Linked DNA regions of Homo sapiens: all the other regions are linked to region 5. The links come from fine-mapping of genetic effects on gene expression. A gene starts in region 5. Each other region holds a variant in brackets. All regions are shown on one strand. Distances are between the middles of the regions. Region 1 has its middle 2.3 kb from the start of FHAD1. Region 2 overlaps TMEM51 (transmembrane protein 51). Region 3 has its middle 16 kb from the start of FHAD1. Region 4 overlaps TMEM51 (transmembrane protein 51). Region 5 holds the start of TMEM51 (transmembrane protein 51). Region 6 overlaps TMEM51 (transmembrane protein 51).

What was found.
Region 1: its variant is fine-mapped to the expression of TMEM51 in whole blood (INTERVAL, PIP above 0.99). The same link has a PIP of 0.9 or more in blood mononuclear cells.
Region 2: its variant is fine-mapped to the expression of TMEM51 in whole blood (INTERVAL, PIP above 0.99).
Region 3: its variant is fine-mapped to the expression of TMEM51 in whole blood (INTERVAL, PIP above 0.99).
Region 4: its variant is fine-mapped to the expression of TMEM51 in whole blood (TOPMed, PIP above 0.99).
Region 6: its variant is fine-mapped to the expression of TMEM51 in whole blood (INTERVAL, PIP 0.96).

Annotation. Positions count from the first base shown.
Region 1 is chr1:15,242,874-15,246,961 of GRCh38, reverse strand. It overlaps a transcript of FHAD1 not described here. Among named protein-coding and RNA genes, the nearest start is that of FHAD1, 2.3 kb to the left of the region's middle. The variant A/G (reference allele first, on the strand shown) is at 1,932.
Region 2 is chr1:15,213,789-15,217,876 of GRCh38, reverse strand. It overlaps TMEM51 (transmembrane protein 51), which reads right to left. Exons shown (of 4, transcript NM_001136218.2): 3 at 2,446-2,982. The coding sequence starts at 2,789. Among named protein-coding and RNA genes, the nearest start is that of FHAD1, 31 kb to the left of the region's middle. The variant G/A (reference allele first, on the strand shown) is at 2,315.
Region 3 is chr1:15,229,223-15,233,310 of GRCh38, reverse strand. No RefSeq gene overlaps it. Among named protein-coding and RNA genes, the nearest start is that of FHAD1, 16 kb to the left of the region's middle. The variant G/A (reference allele first, on the strand shown) is at 2,040.
Region 4 is chr1:15,208,347-15,212,434 of GRCh38, reverse strand. It overlaps TMEM51 (transmembrane protein 51), which reads right to left. Exons shown (of 4, transcript NM_001136218.2): 2 at 1,873-1,945. Among named protein-coding and RNA genes, the nearest start is that of FHAD1, 37 kb to the left of the region's middle. The variant T/C (reference allele first, on the strand shown) is at 1,880.
Region 5 is chr1:15,151,605-15,155,692 of GRCh38, reverse strand. It overlaps TMEM51 (transmembrane protein 51), which reads right to left and starts at 1,946. Exons shown (of 4, transcript NM_001136218.2): 1 at 1,739-1,946. TMEM51-AS1 (TMEM51 antisense RNA 1) reads left to right here and starts at 3,229. Exons shown (of 5, transcript NR_027136.1): 1 at 3,229-3,402. RefSeq lists enhancers at 441-1,102, 1,234-1,323, 1,103-1,764 and silencers at 1,474-1,653, 1,744-1,793, 1,854-2,123.
Region 6 is chr1:15,181,424-15,185,511 of GRCh38, reverse strand. The region is part of intron 1 of TMEM51 (transmembrane protein 51); the gene reads right to left. Among named protein-coding and RNA genes, the nearest start is that of TMEM51-AS2, 12 kb to the right of the region's middle. The variant T/C (reference allele first, on the strand shown) is at 1,805.

The sequences.
Region 1 (4,088 bases), 91 kb before region 5:
GTTGAGGGAGGGTCGGGGGCGATAGGGAGAGGTAGGAGATTGATGGAGCTGAACTCATGAGACCCTTGGAGGTTAGTATGCCCCCTGCCCTACCCAAATCTCTAGTCCTTTCCGTTACAGGCCAGAAAATAGAAAGAGTAAGAAGAGGGGATCTCTGGGAGTGGGGTGGGGATTGGGAAAGGGATGGGGTGGAATGAAAAATTTTGAAAGAATGAGGATTTCTTCCATGTGCTGGGGAAAAAATATTTCCAAACTCACAATCCTGCTGCCTCTGCTCCTCCCTGTTAAGAGTGACATTTATTCATTCTTTTGCCCTTTCTCTATCTCTGCAAACATCTTTTGAGTCCTATGAGTGTCACACGCTGATCCCAGAATACACCTGGAACAGTTACTGTCCTTAAGAAACCGCTTGTCAGCCGGCACAGGACTCGCGGGATGGAGTGTGTTGAGCAGATGTGCAAATCCTATCTCCCGCCACTATCTCCAGCAGGAAATCCTATCTCCTGCTGACTCTACCTGGAGAGTGATTCCTTTCACTGGCAGGAAATGGCTGACCAGACACCTCAAGAAAAACTCTAAACGTTTTTCTAAGAGAGATGAACTATGGCACATTCTACCCTAGTGATACGGTTTGGCTGTGTGTCCCCACCCAAATTTCATCTCGAATTGCACTCCCCACGTGTTGGAAGAGGGGCCTGGTGGGAGGTGATTGAATCATGGGGGCAGACTTCCCGCTTGCTTTTCTCATGATAGCGAGTGAGTTCTCATGAGATCTGATGGTTTAAAAGTGTGGCACTTCCCCCTTTGCTCTCTCTCTCTCCTGCTACACCATGTTACAACATGCTAGCTTCCTTGCTTCCCCTTGGCCTTCCGCCATAACTGTAAGTTTCCTGAGGCCTCCCTAGCAGTGCAGAACTGTGAGTCAATTAAACTTCTTTTCTTTGTAAATTATTCAGTCTCAAGGAATTACTTTATAGCAGTGTGAGAACAGACTAATACACCTAGTCAATAGGAAGAGGATCTGAGAGAGAAATCATGGACATCGATTTGTGGTGGAATATACAGTGAAGATGCTCAAACGTGCCTGGAGGCTTTTAGAAATGCGGACTTCTGGGCACAGACCCCAGAGATTCTGATTTAGCAGGCCTGGGACATAATCCAGGAATGTGCATTTGCAACAAGCTTGACAAAACCCTGATTTATGCAGCTGAACTGCAGAGACCTCTCCCGGAGCCTGTCCCTACAAATCTCTTCCAGGCCCTCAGTCTGGAAGGTTCTGCCTGGATCAGTTTCCTACAACCAGAAAGATTCTAGGCGTAAAATGTTAGGAGGGACCACAAGGGCTGGGACCCAAGTGATGGCTTCACAGGAACAGAGAGGGTCAAGCTCAGCTTCCCACACGTTTCTGCCTCAGAGCCTTTGCTCTTGCCCATTCCTCTGCCTGGAATGCACTTCCCCTCAAGAGTCTCCTTTGCCTTCTTTACTTTAGCTTTTTACTCACATATCATCTTTTCTAAAATTGGTTTTTTGAAACAATGAAACAACCACCATGAAATCTAATAAACAACAAAAAAGAGCAAATAAAAACAATAAGAACAGCAAAAGCAAATAAAAATAAGAACAACAAAAGCAAATAAAAATAAGAACAACAAAAGCACATCCAAACAAAATAAAAACCTCAACACTCTATCCCTCTTCCCTTCTTTTTGCCACTTGCTATAGTTAGAATATTTGACCCCTCCAAATCTCATGTTGAAATTTGCTCCTCAGTGTTGGAGGTGGGGCCTGGCGGGAGGTGCTTGGATCATGCGGGCGAATCCCTCATGGATGGCTTGGTGCTGTTCCTGTAGGGTGCATGAGTTCTCACTCTATCAGTTTCCTAAAGAGCTGATTGTTAGAAAGAGCCTGGCACCTCCCCCTCGCTCACTCTC[A/G]CTTCCTCTCTCATCATGTGATCTCTGCACATGCAGGCGCTACTTTCTGCCAGGAGTGGAAGCAGCCTGAGACCCTCACCAGAGGCAGATGCTGGCACCATGCTTCTTGTACAACCTGCAGAACTGTGAGCCAAATAAACCTCTTTTCTGGATAAATGACACAGCCTCAGGTATTACTTGATAGCAACACAAATGGACTAATACATCACTTATCATCAACTCACATACTATTTCTTTATTTATTTATGTTATTTATTGTGTCTCCCTCCCTGACCCCTGGTAGAATCTAAACTCCATGAAAGCAGGAATTTCTTTTTTCATGTTTTGTTTGCTGCTGTGCCACCAGTCCCTAGAACAATGTCTGAATGAATAAATATGCAGGGGGAAGCCCCTGCCACCCTTCTGAAGCCCGGCCTCCTGTCCTCTGAGGACTGCTGGGCTGACCTGTCCTCGCCCCAGGATGTCGGCTTCTCTAGTCCCCTGCCCAGGCCTGAACACCACCTCCATCCCTACCACCACCCCTCCATGCTTGTCTTTGGTCAAACTCTTGTCATTAACATGAACCCAGGACACAAACTTGCTATCAGACAGACCCCAGTGAAACCCAGGCTGGCCATGAGCTGGAACAGCCCATGCCCCTCACCAGGCTTTGAGAGATCATCTGTTGCTGTTAGCTGATATCTCAATGAAAAACAAAAAATCCTAAACTGAGAGCAAAGCTGACACTCAGAATCAGTGGAGCCGAAGTTGCCAAATCTTAATTGGATCCTCTGTCCCTCAGGATGCCACTGTTATCTCAAGGGTGTGCAAAGTTCTTGAAACCCAATTCCGTATCATCCATTTTCATTTCAAAAACAGAAAATCAAATACCCAATAACTTAGGGTTTTATGATATAATTTCCTGGGCTGAGTAAGAGAGTTGTACATTGCAATTAAACAGTGATGCGGCATTAAAAATACTGTCCCTGAAAAAAAAAAATAGATGTTTCTAGATTACTTGTGCTTCTTGGCAGTGCCTACAGTTAACCTTTTATTGAACTCTTGGTGACGACGAAGCCCATATTGTAGGAAATAAGGCTCAGAGACAGGGAGAAATCTGCCTAAAGTCACACAGCTAGAAAATCTGGCAGGATTTGAATCGAGATGAATGTGACAAGGAAGGTATTTCCCCTGGGGAACTACAGGTGACAGCTGTCACAATCACAAGATGCCACTTACTCACAACTGCTTTCTCTCACTTCTGAGCAGCCTGCACTCTTGTCTGTCCAAAGGTTCAGGCAGTGCCCAGGGCAGGGAGTGAAGGGGGCATAAGCCCAGAGGAGGCAGCTTAGGCCTGCCACCCACATTACCTGCTGACATTGGGCACTAGGCTTCGTTCCTGCAGAACTTCTGCCCCCGTAAAATCTCATTCCTTCCCAGCCACCTTCTCTGGGCTGTTCTTGCCTGGGGAGAGCCTAACCCTGTGCTCCATCCTCAGAGAACTGTGTGATGTTTCTCCTGCTGCCCTTGCATTCCAACATGAAATGAATGCTGGCTTCAGGCCCCAGCCGCGGCCAGGAGAGGTGTGGAGGCTTCCTCAGCCTCTATGGCATGAAAGAGAGCCAGAGAAAGAGCAAGAACAAGAGAGTAAAGAGTGCAGGAAATAGCCAAGCTGTTGCGCAGGGTGACGGATGACAGAGAGCAGAGGGCCCACTAGAGACTCCACGGCCCATTAGTAACCTGACCATATAAGCTTAGAAAGTACAGATTTTTATATACAGACCTACACACAGAGACTCATGAAAATAATTTCAAACCATGGAGAGAATAACTGGCAACTGAGGCTTTCTGCAGCCATCCTTGCCTTTTCCCGTGGCAGAAAATGAGAAAATATGGAGCTTCGTCTCATGTCGACTCTTTCATGCTGGTTTGGAGCATTCAGTTATCTTGCAAATCATTTTTCAAAGTCAGTTCCCCTTGGTTCCTTGCGCTTTGCTGTGGGGGGGTCTGTCTGTACCATCCGTTCAAAAACTGCAAAGTGTGCTGGCCCCACCTGTCCTGGGCCTGGTTTTTGTTGTATTTTGTTTGTGCCTCACTTCCCTCACCTGTAAAATGGGTATACAACAATCCATTTTATTGAAAGGATTAAATGGGTTAAGACGTATGAAACAATGGATC
Region 2 (4,088 bases), 62 kb before region 5:
TGCCCATATTAAACACTGTGAGAGTGAGGGTGTTTCTGGAAGATACTAGCATTCAGCTCGGTGGGCTCTGTAAGGCAGATTCCCCTCCTCAGTGTGGTGGCACCATCCAACCCATGGAGGCCCTAGATAGACCCAAAGTCAGAGCAAGCAGGAATTTGACTCATTTCTCCCTGCCTCACTGCTTGAGCTGGGACATCTCATTTCATCTTCTCCTGCTCTCAGACTAGGATCTATACCCTCACCTCTCCTCGTTCTCAATCAGGCCTTCAAACTCAGAATGAATTATACCCCTTGCTTTCCTGGGTCTGCAGCTTACAGATGGCAAATTGTGGGACTTTTTGGCTTCCATGATCCCAGGAACTAATTCCTCATAATAAATCTCCATTTAAAAAAATATATATCCCCCTGGTTCTGTGTCTCTGGAGAACCCTGACCAATACAGCATATATTATTCTTTGCTATCAGAAAATGAGTTTAATTTGGAAATTGTATTTGTACCCACTTACACCCACTTTCAATTATGTGCAAAAGTAAGAAGTGGGTTAATGTAAATTGAAGGGCAAGCTATTTAGAACATTCTAGGAAAGGGATGGTAACTTCCAGGTCATTACCATGGAAAGGGGTGGTAACTGGTAACATTGGAGGGCAGAAATCCCTTCAATATAATGAGATTTTTTTTTCTTCTGGTGTGTACCCACAAGTGGCATTGCTGAATCATTTGGCAGCTCAATTTTGAGTTTTTTGAAGAAACTCTAAACTTCTCCACAGTGGTTGCACTAATTTACATTCCCACCATTAGTGTACCAAGGGTTCCCTTTAATCCATATTACATTAAGAACAATTCCCTTCCCACTATAAAGATAAGAAATGCTTGTAGAAAATTCAAACAACACAGAAACATCTAATGAAGAAAAGAAAAACATCCCGAATCCTTCTACCTGGAGACAAACCACTGTAACATTCTGGTGTATACCTTTCCTACCCCTCTCCAATCCCACAGCCACAACATTTGATGGGACCATAACCTGACCAAAGATGCTGTATTATATCCCCCTTTTCTCATTGTTGTGGATATGGTCCCACATTAACAAATATAGATCAACAGTTGCTGCATAGAACTCCATTGAATAGGTACGTCATTTAACTCAGTAGGTGGTTTTTTAGGTTGTTTCTAAGTTTTTGTTATCCTAAACAATGATCTGATAAATATACTGGTACAAACTCCTTTGCACCTGTGGGACTGTCTCCCAGGGATAAACTCTTATAAATAGGATCAATACGCACATCTTCAGTACTGCCCCTTATGGTGAAACTCTTAAGAAAGTTTCTATCAGTCAACATTTCATCAGCAATCCATCTTCCCTACAACTCTCCAACAGTAGGGGCTGTCTATCTTGATCAATATGATAGGCAAAAAAAAGAAAAGACATCTTTTTGCTTGCATTTCATGACTAATGAAGTTGAACATCTATTGGTTGAACATCTATGGAATATTCATAATCTTTGTCTGTTTCCTATTGGTATATTCATCTTACATATTCATTTCTAAGAGCTCTTTTTATAATAGGGATATCAACTATTATCATATCTTCCCCAATGTATCACTTATCTTTTAAATTTGTTGGTGGCATTTTTGCTCAAATGGAAAATTGCTTCCCAGCCATTTCAAATTAAAGCATACACACAGCATGCTGGGGTGAAGGGACAAGCAAATATGCTGGCCACCCCAGGCCCTGTTCAGTGACCCTGGGCGGGTCAAAATGCTGGTTCACTTAAGAGTAATGGCCTCCAGCTCCATCCAAGTTGCTGCAAAAGACAGTTTTTTGTTTTTGTATTTTTTTTTTTGAGACAGAGTCTCACTCTGTCACCCAGGCTGGAGTGCAGTGGCGGTATCTCAGCTCACTCACTGCAATCTCCACTCCCCTGGGTTCAAGCGATTCTCATGCCTCAGCCTCCCCAGTAGCTGGGACTACAGGCATGTGCCACCATGCCCAGCTAATTTTTGTATTCTTAGTAGAGACAGGGTTTCACCATGTTGGCCAGGCTGGTCTCAAACTCCTGACCTCAAGTGATCCACCTGCCTCGGCCTCCCAAAGTTCTGGAATTACAGGAGTGAGCCACTGCACCTGGCCCAAAAGACAGTATTTTGTTCCTTTTTATGGCTGAATAGTATTCCATGGTGTAAAAATCTATTGTAATAAAATTTTTAAAAAATCTTGGTTTACCTGTAATCCATTTGTACCATGCTATTTGGGAAGCTCTGGTAGAAAAGTCTAAAGTTATTTGTAAAATGATAAACCGTTTTGACAGAGGC[G/A]TCATGGGCGAACATGGGACAATAAAGCCTGTAGATGACAGTCTTTTCACCACGGAAAGGTGTGAACATGTGTGTGCATGCGTGCGTGCCCATCCCCGATCCGGGGAGGGAAGGGGACAGTCAGGCCTCACCTGTCTTCCTCCTGGGCGTGAGGCCCAGCGCCTGTCGGGTGCTGGACATGGGCCAGGTCCTCGCCCTGCCGCTGCTTCCTCTTATCCCTGATACTCAGGCAGATAGAAAGCAGCAGCAGCATCACCCCGGCCCCGACCAGCACGTAGGCCACAGAGAAGGTCTTGCTCTTGAGGATGCCGCCACCCACCTCGGTCTTGTTGCTGCCCTGAGCTGTTGGCTTCTCGGCCGCGCTGAAGCCGGGTACCAGGTTCCACATGGCCATGATCACCCCAAGGACCAGCATCCCCAGGCCGATGGCGGTCAGCGCATAGTGCGAGCCATTGGCCTTGGACTGGGCCATCATGTCAGTGGGAGGAGGGCGAGGCCCAGTTCCAAGAAAGAAAATAAATGTATACAAGGCAGCAGTCACAACAAAAACCCCTTAAATGCGCTCCACAAAATCTCTCGCCCCACACTAGAAAATATCAGCTGAACTCCTGCGGGATGGTTCCGAGCAATCGCGAGGCCTCCCGTGCGGATGGCTGCGGTGGAAGGGCCTGGAAGGAAAGCAGAAAGAGCAGAGAGGACGATCAGTTCCGATTCCAGACGCTTTGTGAATGTGGCGGCTCTGCTCTTGAAGGAGTTAGGCAGCAGCACCGAGCACGCCGGCTCTGGCTGGGCCTCGCCTTTGATGCATTCCAGATGTCTTACGTGCTCAGGCTCCTTGTGCGAGGCTGCGAGAAGGGAGGCCGGTCTGCCCAGCCCGCTACTCCCTGAAAAGGAAAAGCCAGACCTTTCCCTGCTGGAGGCCAGAAAGGTCGGAGCTCAGGTCATTAAAACATTGTGTGGAATTTAATGAAGTGCAGTAAAATCGTAGCTCTTGCTGGAGGCTGCTGGGAGAGTGAGCGATGGGATGAATGGTCCACAATCGATGGTTGTAACAGACTCACCTGGGGGACAGGGCCTCAGCCAATGGTATGACCAGGCCAAACAGCCTACTGTCATCTGTTCCCCACCCTCAATGGCTCCCTACTTCCTGCAGGAGAAAATCCAGCTTCTTAGAATGATGCTGCTCATGGTGGCCTTAGCCTGGCTCCTGCCTCTCCTACTGCATGTCTCAGCCTGCCTTTCTTTGCACTACCCACCCCCAACCACCCTCCAGAACATTTCTCTGGTCACCCATAGCTCAGATGCCCCTTTCATGTGCTCCCCAAATCCTCCAGCAACCACCGTGGTGAGTCTCTCTCTTCCCATGACCACATTGTCATCATCTCTAAGCCTGGCACACAGCAGGGACTCAAAAAATGTTTGCAGAGTTCATGCCTGTAATCCCAGCACTTGGGGAGGCCGAGGTGGATGGATCACGAGGTCAAGAGATCAAGACCATCCTGGCCAACATGGTAAAACCCCGTCTCTACTAAAAATACAAAAAAAAAAAAAAAAAAGGCTGGGTGCTGTGGCACGTGCCAGTAATCCCAACTATTTGGGAGGCTGAGGCAGGAGAATTGCTTGAACCTGGGAGATGGAGGTTGCAGTGAGCCGAGATTGTGCCACTGCACTCCAGCCTGGGTGACAGAGCAAGACTCTGTCTCGAAAAAAAAAAGTTTGCAGAGTCAATGTTGGATGAAATGAATGCAGGCCACATGAAGTCACCCAGCAAGAC
Region 3 (4,088 bases), 78 kb before region 5:
AAACCTCGGCATCATGCAGTATTCCCATGTACAAATCTGCACATGTACTCACTGTGTCTAAAATAAAAATTGAAACTAAAAAAAATGCTGGTAGTTTGGGGGCTAGAAGTAGCTAGAAATCAAATTAATCTTCACGTCTGCATTAGAAATGTCTTATAGAAGAGAGTTATAGTTTTTAATATAAACATATTGCTTCTCTATGGAAAAAAATTGGGGTTTATAATGGAGTTTTTTGAAACATACAACACAAAAGTAGGGAAAAGAGTACCATTAACCCCATGTACCCATAATCCAGCTTCGATACTTCTCCAATCTTGTTTTATCGCTTTTTTCTTCCTTTTTGATTAACTTCCTTTTGGATTAACTTAAAACACATTGTGTCATTTCATACATAAATACTTCCTGACTAAAAGGAGCTTCCCCACCTTTATGACATTATTTTCCCCATGACATTATCACACTAGCAATACTAGTAACAGTTCCTGAATATCGTCTAACATCCATCCATGCTCACACTTTCTTGATTCTCTGAGAGATGTCGTTGTATTGATGATTTGTTGACATCGGGATCTAGACGCCATCCACACGTTGTGTTTGGTTGTTATGTCTTTGAAATATTTTTTATTCCATAACAGCATCCCCTACCTTTTTCATACCACTGATCGGCTGGAGAAACTGGGTGTTTCGTCCTATAGAATATTCACACCATAGATTTGACTGATTGCTTCTTCATAGTTTCAATTAACTTATTCCTCTCTTCCCCATGTTTCCTGCAAACTAAGAGTGAAATCTCGAGGCCTGATGAGATCTGGTCTTCTTGTTGTCAAGACTACTTCATAGGCAGGCTGTTTGATTCCTCCTGTGTCACATCGTGGACATGTAACATCTTGGTTGGCCCTTTTTAATGATGCCAAGATGGCTAGGTAGGATCAGTGCTGACAGGCTGATCTGTCCATCATAAAGTTCTCATCAAATTTTTCTCCAGTGACTTTTAATTTTTATGTTTAATTTTTTTTTGAGATAGAATTTTGCTCTGATGTCCAGGCTGGAGTACAGTGGCAAGATCTCGCCTCACTGCAACCTCCGCCTCCTGGGTTCAAGTGATCCTCCCACCTCAGCCTCCCAAGTAGCTGGGACTACAGGTGCACACCACCATGCCTGGCTAATTTTTTTACTTTTAGTAGAGACAGGGTTTCACCGTGTTGGCCGGGCTGGTCTTGAACTCCTGACTTCAAGTGATCCTCCTGCCTTGGCCTGCGAAATTGCTGGGATGACAGGCATGAACCACCAGGCCCAGACAGTTTTTATTTTTAATTGTGGTAAAATACACATAACATACAATTTACCATGTGAATCATTTTTAGCGTACAGTTCAGTAGTGTTAAGTACATTTACATCATTGTGCAACCAACCTCCAGAGCTTTTTCATCTTGCAAAACTGAAACTCTGTACCCACCAAACACTAGCTCTGTAATTCCCCTTCCTCCCAGGCCCTGAGAAATATCATTGTACTTTCTGTTTCTATGAGTTTGGCTATTCTAGATACTTCGTATAAGTGGCATCACACAGTATGTGTGTTTGTGACTAGCTTATTTCACTCTGCAGAATGTCCTCAAGGTTCATCGTGTTGTAGCATGTGTCAGAATTTCCATCTGTTTTAAGGCTGAATAATATTTCATTGTATGCATAGACTATATTTTGTTTGTCCATTCATTCATCGGTGGACACTTGGGCTTATCAACATTTTTTTTTTCTTTTTTTGAGATGGAGTCTCCCTCTGTCACCCAGGCTGGAGTGCGGTAGCAAGATCTCGGCTCACTGCAACCTCCACCTTCCAGGTTCGGGCAATTCTCCTGCCTCAGTCTCCTGAGTAGCTGGGACTATAGGCAAGTGCCACTATGCCTGGCTAATTTTTTTATTTTTAGTAGAGATGGGGTTTCACCATGTTGGCAAGACTGATCTTGAACCCCTGACCTCAAATGATCCTCCTGCCTCGTCCTCCCGAAGTGTTGGGATTGCTGGTGTGAGCCACTGTGCCC[G/A]GCCTCATCAACTTTTTACCTAATAGTTTTAGCATTCTTTGAGGATCATTCCCTAGCTCCATTCTTTCCTTTGAGGTTGCAGAATAGTGATCTTTCTGATATTCCTTTGTTAATTATTGCTAGAATTCTTCTTCATCAACTGTCAATGCATTTTCTTCATCAACTATTATTATTATTATTATTTTTGAGACAGGGTCTCACTCTGTTGCCCAGGCTGGAGTGTAGTGGTGTTATCATGGCTCACTGCAGCCTCAACCTCCTGAGCTCAAGTGATCCCTCCATCTCAGCCTCCCAAGTAGCTGGGACCACAGGCACACACCACTACACTCAGCTAATTTTTAAACTTGTTGTAGAGACGCGGTTTCTCCATGTTGCCCAGACTGATCTCAAACTCCTGAGCTCAAGCATCCTCCAGCCTAGGCCTATCAAAGGGTTGAGATTACAGGCGTGAGTCACTGCGCCTGGCCAATTATATGTTTACCGTAAAACACAGTTTGTTCAGGAAAGGCAGAATAAATGATGGATTCTTTCCCTTTATGTATCAATATTCACAGTAACAAGCAACTTCCCAAAGTGACCAATGAGTTTTTAAAAGTATCATCAGGAATATTTGATTTGGAATTATGTAGATGTGTTTCAATCCATTGAAGTCACTATTTGGTTTGATGCTCACATGGTGCCAGCATCATGGCATTTGGGTTGGTTCTTGTGTTGTTTGTTTTTCTGGGTGGAAACAACTTAATATTTCATTATAATCATTTGTGTTTGTGAAGCATTACTGTGGTCTTTAGGGAAACATCTTTTTACTCGGTTTTCCTTTCCTGTACAAGGAAGCTGAGCAAGATGAACTCTAGAAGCATTTCTCTTTAAAATTCTACTTTTTATAGCATTTTGTAGCATATAATTTAACTCATTTGATTCTCCCAGTCTTGTGGCCCAACGCAATAATCAATATTTCGTTTTTCAAACATGGAAATTGCCGCTCAGATGACAATCTTTTTTTCCACTTCTCCATACTACATTCTCCCCGCAACCCCCCGTAGCCAGTAGACCTAAAGCTTCAGTTTGTACAGTTTTTAACCACGGGCATTTTGCGCCCTGACCCAGGCCCCCAGGAGACTTTTGACAATGCTTCGGGACATTTTTGATTGCCACACCTGGGCAGTGCTTCTGGCATCTAGTGGTGGAGGCTAGGGATGCTGTAAACTTCCTGTAAGGAACAGAGCAGCCTTCCACCTAGCCACGCCTTGCCCCATGTCAGGGTTACCCAGCCCAAAATGTCAATAGTGCCAAGGTTCAGAAACCCAGAGTTGAAGCAATACACAGAGATAAAATCATATTCCATTTAATTCAGTGTTTATTCACTGGAGGGGTGTATGATAATGTACACGTCTATGAAATTACTACCCAGGAAGTAGGAGCAAGGGATAGTCTGCCTTCAACATATGCGTAGGACTTAGTCAATGGTGTTCTTCTCCTCCTCCTCCCCCTCTGGTCTTATTCCTGGTTCCTATATTGCCCCGTGAGACCTTTCTATTATTGGCCTAAGGGAAGATGAGTGGATGATTTTTACTACTTTCAGCCATTGGAAAAATTTTAGGCATTAAAACTTTTTTAACTGGAAAAATAAACATCAAAATCAAGGTTTATTCCAAATAGCAGCTAGAATGTTTGTACTGATTTCTCCTTGCCAATTTTTTTTTTTTTTTTTTTTTTTGAGACAGGGTCTCACTGTGCTACTGAGGCTGGAGTGCAGTGGTTCTCCGTTCTCTGCAAACTCCACCTCCCGGGTTCAAGCGATTCTCCTGCCTCAGTCTCCCAAGTAGTTGGGATTACAGGCGTGCACTACCACACCCAGCTAATTTTTGTGGTTTTAGTAGAGACGAGGTTTCATCATGTTGGCCAGGCTGGTCTCGAACTCCTGACCTCAAGTGATCTGCTCACCTCCCAAAGTGCTGGGATTACGGGTGTGAGCCACCACGCCCGACTCCTCCTTGCCATTTTCATGGATTCAATGAATGTTTTAAATAAGCTTAGGATTACCTTTTA
Region 4 (4,088 bases), 57 kb before region 5:
TCACTGCCTGCCCTCATTCGTTCTCCATTCCAGCTTTGCCTTATGCTGCACGAGAGAAAGACAGGCTCCAGATGTGAATCATGGGCAGAGATTAAAATGTCGGGATTAATACATTCTTTTTGTCTGATAAACTGTCAATGATTAAAAACAGGTGATAATACTCAGTGTGGGGAAAGGTATTGGGATGGCAATTTCATGGCATTTTTTTAGATGGCAAGTTTTGGCATTTATAGAACAAAAGTTTCAAAAATGTTTATACCCTTTGGCTCTATAATTCCAACTTCTAAGAATTATGTACAGAGATATCATCACAGCTTTATAGTGGTGAGAAGCTAGAAATTACTTCAATAGCCAATAATCCAGATCAGGGTAATAAATTATGGTTCACGCACTTAAGGAAATTATGGTCTCAAAGCAGCTAATGTATTTTTAAATCAAACAACAAGATTGAAACAACAGTGTGTTCAGCGTGATTCTAATTTTTAAAAAATTCTCCATACACAGATGAATATATGGGAAAAAGCCTGGATGATTGTACTTACATTGAAATGAAAGAGACAGTGTATTTTTATATATACACACGTATGTAAAAATCCCGGGGGGGGGGGGGGGGTCACCTTTCAGACTTGTACCATGATTGCTTCTGGGGACGAAGGAAACTCGGAAAGTGTACCCTTTACTTTCTATTTCTCTCTTTTGAATTTTCACAATCTGATTGTATTGCTGCAAGGTAGCATAGCTGAGTGGTTAAGAGTGAGCTTGGGACCCAGGCTTCCTGGGCTCACATCCTCACTCTATTCCTTCACAGCTGTGTGACCTCGGGCAAGTTACTTAACCTCTCTGTGCTTCAGTCTCCACAGCTGTAAAAGGGAGACAAAAACTCTCTAGTACCTACCTCATAGGGGAGTTATGATAAATAAATAATATACATAAAGCACCAAGAACAGTATGTGACCAGCACAACAGTAAGTTCTTAAACAGACAAAAAAAATTGTTATTTAATGTTAATTAGAGCTTGTATTCTCAATGGGGTAAGATCACCCACAAGGAGCAAAAATTGTTTCTTGGGGACAGGGTGAAAAAAATCTTGGATATTATAATGGTTTGTGGCCCTCCACAGGGCCACAGAATATAAATAGATACACAGGGCATCCTTGGCATTAAATTTTCAAGTATTCCAAAAAGAATGTCTAAAAAGACTTCTCAGGGAGGGCAAGGTGGCGGAAAAGGTTGAGAAACACTGTTGAATGTATCATACTAAGTTTCACAACACTCGGATTATATATTATGATATTTATAGTTATTTTCTGTGTGTGATGGGATTCACCATGATTTTCATTTTCTTTTTCTTACTGGGAGAATAAGAATTAGAAAACAGAAATATCTATGTGTTGCTTTCATAAAATAGTTTTGGTTTTTTGGGTTCATGGCAGGGTTATGTGTGCAACGGTGGCGTAGATTTGTTCTTCAAGTTCAGCCCTCTCTTTGGGGACTGTGATCTTGATGGGTCTATGGGGTCTGTAGAAACCCAGCTCCCAGCGGGGCATCTGGTCAGCTGTTTGTCCTGTTCTTGGCTTGTTGACCCTGGACAGCACCCGAGCTATATTTAGCATGGTGTTCTTTTCCTTTTAAAAATATGGAAAGAAGCTAATTTTATGCTTAGAGGATTTGGACCACACGGCTTCCAATATGTCCCTAAAACACAGTAGGCTTGGTGGGCAGTCTGGGGTCCTGGCTTGGCCAAACTCAACCTCTAGACCCTGGGGTTGGCCCCATCACTGCTCATGTCTGAGGAGGCCCTAAGGGAGGTATGAATGATTCTATATCTGAGTTTTTAAAGAAAAATTATTAACCAGTTAGAGAGGTATCTACCTGTTGT[T/C]ATTTGAGGAGACTCAGGGCAGGCCAGAAGGCAACTCTTCATGCTAGTCTTGAGTTAAAGATCCACCTATAAAAAAACCACAGAGATGCAGCTTTCTAAGCAAGCTGTGAGCATTGCAATTGGAGTTACATGTTGGGGAGCCATGTGTTTTCTTTGTTTTTTAGGGGGAAAAGGGCAAGGGTTAGGGTAGGTATCTATGCAAGACAAGTGGTACCAGAAGAAGCCAGAATTCTGTACAAAAAAATATGAGTTGCAGAAGGATGACAACATGGTAGCTAACATTTATCAAACTCTTTCATGGTATTATCCATCTTAGACATGTGCTCCAGAGAATATCAGAGGAAATACTCTCAGGTCATCTTATAAGGAATGTATATACCTTGACACCAAAACTAGAAAAGAACAAGGCAGGAGAGGAAAATGACAGGCCAGTCTGACCCACCAGCCTAAACAAAAATCGGCAAATGGAATCCATGCTTCCCTCCTTCCCTCCCCGTCTCCCTCCCTTCCTCCCTTCCTTCCTTCCTTCCTGAGTCTTACTTTTTTGCCCAGGCTGGAATGCAGTGGTGTGATCTCAGCTCACTGCAACCTCCGCCTCCTGGGTTCATACAATTCTCCTGCCTTAGCTTCCCAAGTAGCTGGGACTACAGGCGCACACCCCCACACCTGGCTAATTTTTGTATTTTTAGTAGAGACGGGGTTTCACCATGTTGGCCATGCTGGTCCGAACTCCTGACCTCAGGAGATCCTCTTGCCTTGGCCTCCCAAAGTGCTGGGATTACAGAAGGGAGCACCCAGCCCAACCATATTTTTTAAAAAGATAACACATCATAATCAAGTTGGGTTTATCCCAAGAATGCAGGGTTTGGTTCAACATTAGAAATTGGTCCCAGGAGAAAGGATAAACCACAACGTGTCACTCTGTGGAGTATTACGTACGCAGCAGTGAAGGTGAGTAAACTGCAGCTGTGTGCACCAGTGAGGATGATCCTGACAAACATAATGTTGAACAGAAAAGCAAACTGCAGAAGAATACACACTGCAGAAATCCACTTAAATGAAGTTCAAAACCAAACAATATGTTGCTCTATTTTTGTAATATTAGGAAGAAACGCAAAGACTATAAACTAAAATTCAGGACAAATTCAGGCTACCTTCTGGCCAGGCACAGTAGCTCACACCTGTAATGCCAGCACTTTGGGAGGCCAAGGTGGGAGGATCGCTTGAGCTCAGGAGTTCGAGACTAGCCTGGGCACTATAGTGAGACCATGTCTCTACAATAATAATAATAGTAATAATAATAATAATAATAATAATAATGAGCCCAGTGTGTGGCTCACACCTGTAGTCCCAGCTACTTGGGAGGTTGAGGTGGGAGGATCTGCTTGAGCCTAGGAGGTAAAGCCTGTAGTGAGCCTTGAGCACGCCACTGCACTATAGCCTGGGTGACAGAATGAGACCCTGTCTCAACAAACATAGAAACAAACAAACACACACACACACTACCTCCTGGAGAAATGAAGAGTGAAGAATAGTACTGGGGAGGCGAACAGTGAAGGGTACATGAGCGTTTTATTATACTATTCATTACAATTCACATATATCTTATATATACTCTTTTGAATGACTGAAATAGTTTGTAACAAGAATGTCCAAAAGCCCATCAATGTGTTTTTATTACTTTTAGCATAAAATCCAAACTCCTTGGCCATGACCCTCAAGCCCCACCAGCCTGGACGAGGCTCCTGTCTTGCTGTCACAGCTCATATCTCCTGCTCACCAGCCCTCAGTGGTTTCCTTTCTGCTCCTCATTGGCACCAACTACTTCCTACCACAGGGCCTTGGAACTTGCTATACCTACTGCTTGAAAACACCCTTCCACCTGTCTCTTTTGTCTGGCTACTTATTTATTTATTTCTGTATTTAAAATTTTTTAAAAAATTATTTTAGAGACAGCATATTTCTTTGTCACCCATAGCTCACTGCAGCCTCGAACTCCTGGGCTCAAGTGATCCTCCCGCCTCAGCCTCCCAAGTACCTGGGATTACAGGTGCACACCATCACACCCAGCTAATGTTTTAATTTTTAATCTTTTTGTAGAGATGGAATCTTGCTGTGTTGCCCAGGCTGGTCTTGAACTCCTGGCCTCAAGCGATCCTCCTGCTTCGGCCTTACCAAAGTGCTGGGATTGCAGGCATGAGCCACCATG
Region 5 (4,088 bases):
CCTGAGCACCTTCCCCAGCCCAGCACACCCCAGGCACTCTCCTGTCGCTGTGCCTTTGCCTGTGCTGTTCGATCTGCCCAGACACCCTTCCTCCCCTGTTCCCTGGGGGGACTCCAGTTCCCTGATGAATATTCTAATACTCTTTTCTTAGCAGGACCTCCTGAGTTATTTCCTTTCTTCTGTTCTCGTCTAAGCCCTGTGACATAACTTACTATAGAATACTTCATGTGCTAGGCATAAATACCCCACCTCGCCCTTGGAGATCATCATCCCATTTTACAGATGAAGAAGCTGAGGCTCAGAGAGGTCAGGTCACACAGCCAGCAAGTGGTGTGGCCTGACTGTATCGCCAATTCTGCAACACTTTTCATGAGTATCCCTGACTCCCTCACTAGGCTGGGGGCTCCCTGAGGCTTCTGGGCTCTGGGTCACTGGGGCAGGCCCCAGACACCCCATCAGAGAGCTGTCAGCTCCGAAGCCGTGAGGAGCAGGTTCACCACTAGCCTCCTCTCTCTTTCTTTGGCCTTTTCTCCCAGTCTGGGGGTACCTCTCAATTGGTGGAGTGAGATATTTGGAGGGGCAGGGGCTCTGTCCCAATAGGTCAGGATCCTCTTGTGACAGGTTTCCGGGGTGTGAAAGCTGTTCACGGTCCCAGGGCCAACAGTTCCCTAGACAAGCTGTTCTCCGGGTAACCCATTCAAAAGGAAAGCCAGAAGCCGGCCGGTCCTAGAGGGGAAAGCCTTCCACCCGCTGACTTACCTCCCGGTTCGGGTCCCTGCCCCGCCCACCTCGTCCCCGCCCACCCCACTCCGGCAGCGCCCGGGTTCCCAGCAGCCAGACCTCCCCTGCTGTTGGGAAGGACCCGCAGTCCCATGCACCGTCACAGGCACCTCGGAGCGCTGCGCAGGACACCCCACGGGCTGCTCCCTGGGGAAACCGTGGGGGAGGGGCCAGGTCTCTCGCCCCCACCGCTGGTTGGGAAAGAGACCATTATCCTGTAATGCAGACCAGGCGCGCCGGGCCAAGCGCCTCCCGTTTGTGCGCTGATTTGAGATCTGATTTGTACTCTGCTCTCCCCTAGGCCCGGTAACGTAACTTACCGCTGAGTGCTTGCTGGGTGCTGGGCATGAATGCCCCGCCGCACCCTGGGACGTTGTCATGTCAGTTTCACAGATGAAGAAACCGACGCGCTCAGGGAAGGACTCGAGTTTCAATCCACTTTGCTCATGCCCGATTCTTTACCCCCGTGTTTGCTTGTAGAGCGACACACACACATACACACACACGAATCTAAATCCCTAAAAGGCCCCGACTTCCATACAGTAAGGGATGCGCGAGCAAAGCGCCAAGGTGGTTTCCTGGGACCTACTGGGAAGTTCTGCTCCTAACCACGCGCTGAAAGCGCTTCTGGCGAAGCCAAGGGTTCGAAGCCCGCCGGGCGGATAGCACCTGTTCCCGCCAACAGGGGGCCCCCAAGGCCAGCTGCCTTCCCCAGCCGAGGCCAGCTGGCCAGGCGCGGTGCCCGGGAGGCGGGAGCGTCCCGCGCCGGCGGGGCGCGGCCGCAGAGGGTGCGGGGTGCGGAGTCCTCCCGGTGGTCGACCCCAGGCGGGAAGCGCTCGGCGGACAGACGGACGGACAGGAGACCCAAACGGGCCTCGGCCCCCTTACACGGCCCTGTGGGGAACCGACAGCGCGCCGCGGGAAGCAGCGGGCGCAAGGCGCGGCGGCTGAGACTCACCCGGGAGGCGGCGGGTCCGGCTCCGTCTCGGCTGGGCGGTCCGGGACTGCGGGCTTCGCGACCCCCGCGCCCCACCCGGGCGGCCTCCTCGGTGGGCGCCGCGATCGCGGGGCTGGGGTTCGGGGGATTCTTAGCCGAGGGAACGCAGTGGTGGAGAGGGCGCACTGCCCTCTCAGGGACCGGGTTGGGGACGCAGGAAGCGCGGCCTGGGAGCGCCGGCGTGCGGGAGGGAGGGACCGCGGGAGGCGGAGGGCGGTGCCGGCCAGGAGCGGCCTCCAGCCCGGAGAAGCACCGCCCACCGGCCGACCCTCCCTCCCGGCCCTCGGCACCACCCCCGGGCCCGAGGCGAGGGATCGCAGCTGAGCGAGGCGGGCACCCACTCCCCAGCGTATGCCGCTGGAGCGCGCTGAGCGTGTGCCGGGGGCTGGGCCTAAGTTCTCCCCAACCCTTGCCAGCCGAGTTGGATAAGAGGGGGTCGGGAGAAAATAGAGCCCTGATCCCCCCTCCTCCCTAGGGCCCAGAGAATCGGTGTGCATGCGTGTGTGCGCGCACGCGCGTGTGTGTGACGGGTGGTGGTCGGGGAATGTCTCAAGCTAGAAGTCCCAGGTTTTAGGGGTTTAAGTGGAGCTGGGAGACCCGCTTTCCTCCCACACCAGGCGCAGACGCCGAGGCACAGCTCCGCCAGCCGCCCCGCCTTTACCTGGCGGGATACTCACCTCTCCTCCTTCCTGGGGAGGCCACCGCCTCCCTCTCCCCCTTCTGCCCTGGGCTGGTTCCCAGCGAGGTGAGTGACCGGCACAAGTAGGGAAGGAGGAAGCGAGTTTTTAAAAACTGAGTCAGCTCACGCCCTCGGCCAGGGTCCCCACCCGATGCGTGGTCCCCAGGGCGCCCTCGGGATCGCACGCCCGAGTCCCGGCCCAGGTGGGGCCCATTCCGGGTTCTTGCGCGCGGGCAATGGATGGGGGCGCGCTGCACCGGGAGCCTGCCCTGCTGAGGGCTCATCCCCAGCTTTGCCGAGAACTTTCCCGGCGAGGCACCGGCTGGCGTTTTCCCAGCCTGCGAGTGGCAGGCGGGCAGCCAGTCTCTGCTCGGATCCACGGAGGCCCGGAGCCGCCACGGAGTTCTGGCTCCGGGGAGTGCAAACCCGAAGTCGGCGCGGAAGCCTCTCACCCGCGGCTCTGCCTCCGCCCCTTGGAGATCTGCCCTCGGAACTGCGTTGCTCTGGCGCCCGAACTAGGGTGGGCTGGTTTCAGCCAGACCGCCAAAAAACGTGGATGCTAAACACAGAGGGAAGAGCCAGCTCCCATTCCCTCTCTGAGCCTTAGATTTTTTTGAATTCCGAGAGAGGTCAGGCCGGGGTCCCCTTCTTGGGTGAGCGTCCAGCCCTTTGAAGTTCAAACACTGAGAAGCCGATAGGCAGCTGGCTGGCGTCACAGGATCGAGCCGAGGACTGAAGGCGCCTCCTACCGGGAATCCACCGCCTCCAGACGAAAATAGGCTGCAATCAAGTTCACTTCCAAAGGCGGAATTCATGGGTACATATGGTGTCCACGTGTGTACACCTGCAGAGTTGTAACATGCGGGCATTTCTCCCCTCAGCCCGCCATTCTGGCTTCTTAACTTGCACCCTAACAGCTCGACAGAACCTTGGCGTCCACAAAAAGGCAAGTTTGGGTCTGCCTTATGATTTGGGGGTGGGAAGGCATTTGGGGAAACAGTCTCCATGTCTATGACAGCAACTGCTATTCCTCACATCCTTGCTATGAACCAGGGGCGGGGTTACCACCCACATCCCCTGAACCATCTCATTTAATCCTCATAACCTAGGAGGCGGTTATTTGTTATGCCCACTTTATAGAAGAGAAGGCTGAGGCTTAAGGAGGTGAGGTCATTTTGCCCAGTGAAAACACAGCTGGGAAGTATCAGGATCTAGACCCAAGATGATCCACTCCAGAGCTTCTGCTCTCCCTCCCATAGCATAATTCCTCCTGTCTGCACATACTCTCCACCCTGAGAGAATGTTCACCTTGCCTGGCCACCTGCAAATGCGGAATAAACATTTGTTGGATGAATGAAAGCCCTAAATAATAACCCATGATTTTAGTGAATAGGGAGGACCCTTTGTGTAGGCAGGTACCTATAATAATATGCTCCCATTTAAGAGCTGTGCGTATTCATCCCAAAGTTTAGACAATGCATGTGGGGACCTTCCCAGGCTCCAAAGGAGTGACAGGAAACAGTCACGTAGCTCTCAGATAAGACCAGGAATCTGGTTTTCATTTGACTCTGCAAGATGGACTTTGGAGAGGCCTGGGGTGGGGGCGGGGGGTGATCATGTCAGAACAGCTGT
Region 6 (4,088 bases), 30 kb before region 5:
TACTTATTATAAGGGGATTTCCCCACTTCCAAGAAGTATTGGGCCTCAGTTTTCCCACCTGTACAGTAAGAACTTGGGTAGGACTATATTATCCCAACATTTCTTCCTGCACTGAAATTCTCAGGTTTCATGAGTTAGTCCCAGTTAGAGAAGGCTGCCTAGGTCACAAGGATAGCAATTTTTGGAAAGTTCTTTGGAGAAAAAGAAAAAATATCACAACTGATAGAATGAATACAGTTTTGGGCAATGTGGCAGTAACCTTCCCCATGGGGTAGGAATAGAACAGATTTGACAAAATGAACAGTCTTTTCCTATGGTGGGCTCAGGGCTCCTAAGTTTTGAGCATTTCCCAAGCATTACTTCACCGGTGAGGTGGCTTATGGGAAATCTGCGTATACGCACAGAACAAAGTCTGGACCATCAAGCACACTGGGAACAGTAGTTATCTTTGGGGTGTGGGGGTCAGATGGGGGTGGGGCAGGCAGGACATTTCTGCCTTCCTGTACTTCTATGCAAGGTTTCTTTCCCCTGGCTCCACTGACATACTGGCAGATAATTCTTTGTTGGGAGTGCTGTGCTGTGCAATGTCGGTTGTATAACAGCATCTCTGGTCTCTACCTACTAGATACCAATAGCATCTCCCCAGCTGGGGGCAACCAAAAATGTCTCTAGACATTGCCAAATGTCCCACGCGAGGGCAAGATCACCCCTGCTTGAGAGCTCTATACTCTATACTATTGAGTTTTAAAAAATTAAGATAAGCACATATCTTATATGATGATGGATGGCTTTATTTAACACCTCAGCAAGTGTGGTTGATTTTACCTGTCCAAAGGTTTCAAATCCACCTACTTCCTGCTTCTGCCATCACTACCACCTTTGTCTAAGCCACTGTCACCTGGACAACGATATCAGTTTCCAACCTGGTCTCTCTGCAGCTGCCCTGGCCCTAGCAAGTCTTTACGCAGCAGCCAAAATGAGCTTCTAGAAGCATCCTTCAGTCATGTCACTCCTCTGCCTGGCTTCCTACTATCCTGAGAATAAAATCCAAACTCCCCACTTGCCTTCAAGGTACTCTGTCGTCTGGACCTGGATCCACCCTCTGCCCCCTGTCCTCTGCTAGTCCCTGGCCACTCACAGTGTGGTCCTGCAGTGTCAACAGCCCTGAGAGCTGGTGAGAAAGGCAAGGCCAGGCGTGGTGGTTCACACCTGTAATCCCAGAATTTTGGGAGGCCGAGGTGGGCGGATCACGAGGTCAAGAGATCAAGATCATCCTGGCCAACATGGTGAAACCCCGTCTCTACTAAAAATACAAATATTATCCTGGTGTGGTGGCGCACGCCTGACTCGGGAGGCTGTGCAGGAGAATCACTTGAACCTGGGAGGCAGAGTTGCAGTGAACTGAGATCGTGCCACTGCACTCCAGCCTGGTGACAAAGTGAGACTCCGTCAAAAAAAAGAAAGGCGGAAGGAAGGAAGGAAAGAAGAAGGAAAGGAAAGAAGGAAAGAAAGAAATGCAGACACTCAGGGCCACCCCGGACCTGCTGAGTTGGATCTTGCAGGAGGCACGTGCACCTTCATGTTTGAAATGAGCGGCTGCGGCCCCACTGTCCTTCTCGCTGGCTTCTTCTCATCTGTCACTTAAATGTGACCTCCACAGTGAGGCTTTCCAAACCGGACATTTGCAAGTAGTTGTCCATGCAGTTCTCTGTCTCAGCATCTTGCTGGTTTTGGACATAGCTATGACCACAACATGTAATCATCTTGTTTATTTATGTTATTTGTTGCCTTGCCTGTTTCTATG[T/C]CCATAGCCCACATCCCTGGTGTAAGCTCTATGAAGGCAGACACAGGGCAGATGGCACCAAACACACAGAAGGCACTCAGAAAATAGTATTGGAAGGAATACTAGCTACATATATTGTGCCTTTACTATGTGGTAGTAAGTTTTCTTTACAAGAATTATCTTCATGCAATCTATAGTTATCTTGTTTATTCTTCATGCAACCTATAGGCGAGATAGATACCATGTACGATAATCTCCCTTTTACAAATGAGGAAATGGAGGCAAAGGGACATAAAGTTTTGCAGCTGGTAATCGGCAGAATCGGGGTACCTGGGGCTAGGTGGGGAGTGATCTTGCTCCCATCACTGTACCTTTTACCTCTGCACGATACTGCCTTATTTGTAAATCAAGTAGCATATTACGCACATGACGGATGCATAACATTGAAAGGAATTTCCTAGTGAATGCTTCTATAAAATAAAGAATTCTGCTGTTGGGGGATATTTATCCCTTGTGTGCTTTTTTGGTAAATGACATCTTGGATTCAGAATCTGTTTAAGCAAAGTCCATAGATCCATATGTTCCCAAAGAGTGTTGATTCTACCAGCAGACATAAAACAAGTCCAACAGGGAAGATGCTGGGGCTACTCAAATTTAGAAGCCATTGGCTGGGCGTGGTGGCTCACATCTGTTATCCTAGTACTTTGGAAGGTTGAGGCGGGAGGATCACTTGAGGTCAGGAGTTTGAGACCAGCCTGGCCAACATGGTGAAACTCCATCTCTACTAAAAACACAAAAATTAGCTGGGTGTGGTGGCAGGTGCCTGCAATCCCAGTTACTATGGAGGCTGTGGTAGGAGAATCAGTTGAGCCCAGGAGGCAGAGGTTGCAGTGGGATGAGATCACGCCACTGCACTCCAGCCTGGGTGACAGAGTGAGATTCTGTGCCCCCCAAAAGAAGAAACAGTGGATATTTCTGTGTCCTCTGTCAGGCTGGCCTTCCCTCCTCACAGCCACCAGGTAAATAATCTTTTAGCTTTGGGGATCCAGTACTTTCCTTCTATGGCCCTTCTTGCCTGTCCTCTTTCTTGCTCCCAACTGCCTAAGGTACTTATTTCCAGAATTTAATATGCAGGACAATCCATTTAGATAGAACATGGGGCCTCAATTTTGCAAATGAAGAACCTGAAGCTCAGAGAGGTGAATTATTTGCTCAAGGTCACACTGCCAGTTGGCGAGAGACCCAGAGCTTGAACAGCTCAACTCGGAGTGGTCCTGGTATACTGATGATCACATAAGCTGAGGCTTGCTGACGCTGTGCCAAAAGCTTGCCTGCTTGATCTTACGACAGTCCGATTGGGCAGGCGCCATGGCTATGTCCATTTTACAGATGAGGAGACTGAGGCTCACAGAGGAAGAGTGACACATTCTCAAGGTCATGCAGCCAAGAAGAGAGCAGGGATTTGACTCCAGAAGGGATGCTCTTATTATGTACTGCCATTCTGCTTTCAGCCTAGTGCAGTTATTTATTTATTTATTTATTTATTTATTTATTTATTTATTTATTTGAGATGGAGTTTTGCTTTTGTTGCCCAGGTTGGAGTGCAATGGCGCAATCTCGGCTAACTGCAACCTCCACCTCCTGGGTTCAAGCGATTCTCCTGCCTCAGCCTCCCGAGTAGCTGGGATTACAGGTGCACACCACCACGCCCAGCTAATTTTTGTATTTTTAGTAGAGACAAGGTTTTGCCATATGGGTCAGGCTGGTCTTGAACTCCTGGCCTCAGATAATCCACCCACTTTGGCCTCCCAAAGTGCTGGGATTAACAGGCGTGAGACACCACTCCCGGACAGTCACACATTTTAAATTTATAAACCAGCCCTCGTGGAGTTTCATGCAGGCAGCCAGACGTCACGGTTTGATGGTTCACCTTTTATTTTTGTTTTCAACCCAAAGAAAACAGAGCAGCTTGAGAAACCCATGCTGTGGTTCCCACAACACAGGCAAAACACTAAAGCAAGCATACAAAATAAATAAACAGAAAGGTTGTTTGTTCACCTTGAGCCCCGTCTGGTCGAGAACCTGCTGCCATGACCTGAGAGCCAGGGCTGTGGGGTGGGAAGCTCATCGTTTACTTAGACATGACGGTAACCATCAGCCCGAATCTCTTGCAAGGGAGTAAAGAAAGATGGTTAGGAACCGAAGCCTGGGAACGAGGCTTTGAGTTTTTAAAAATGAGAGAATCCAAAAGACGGTTTAATTTGAGCGCTTAAGAGTCCCTGGATGTAGTTCAAAAAGGCTTTTT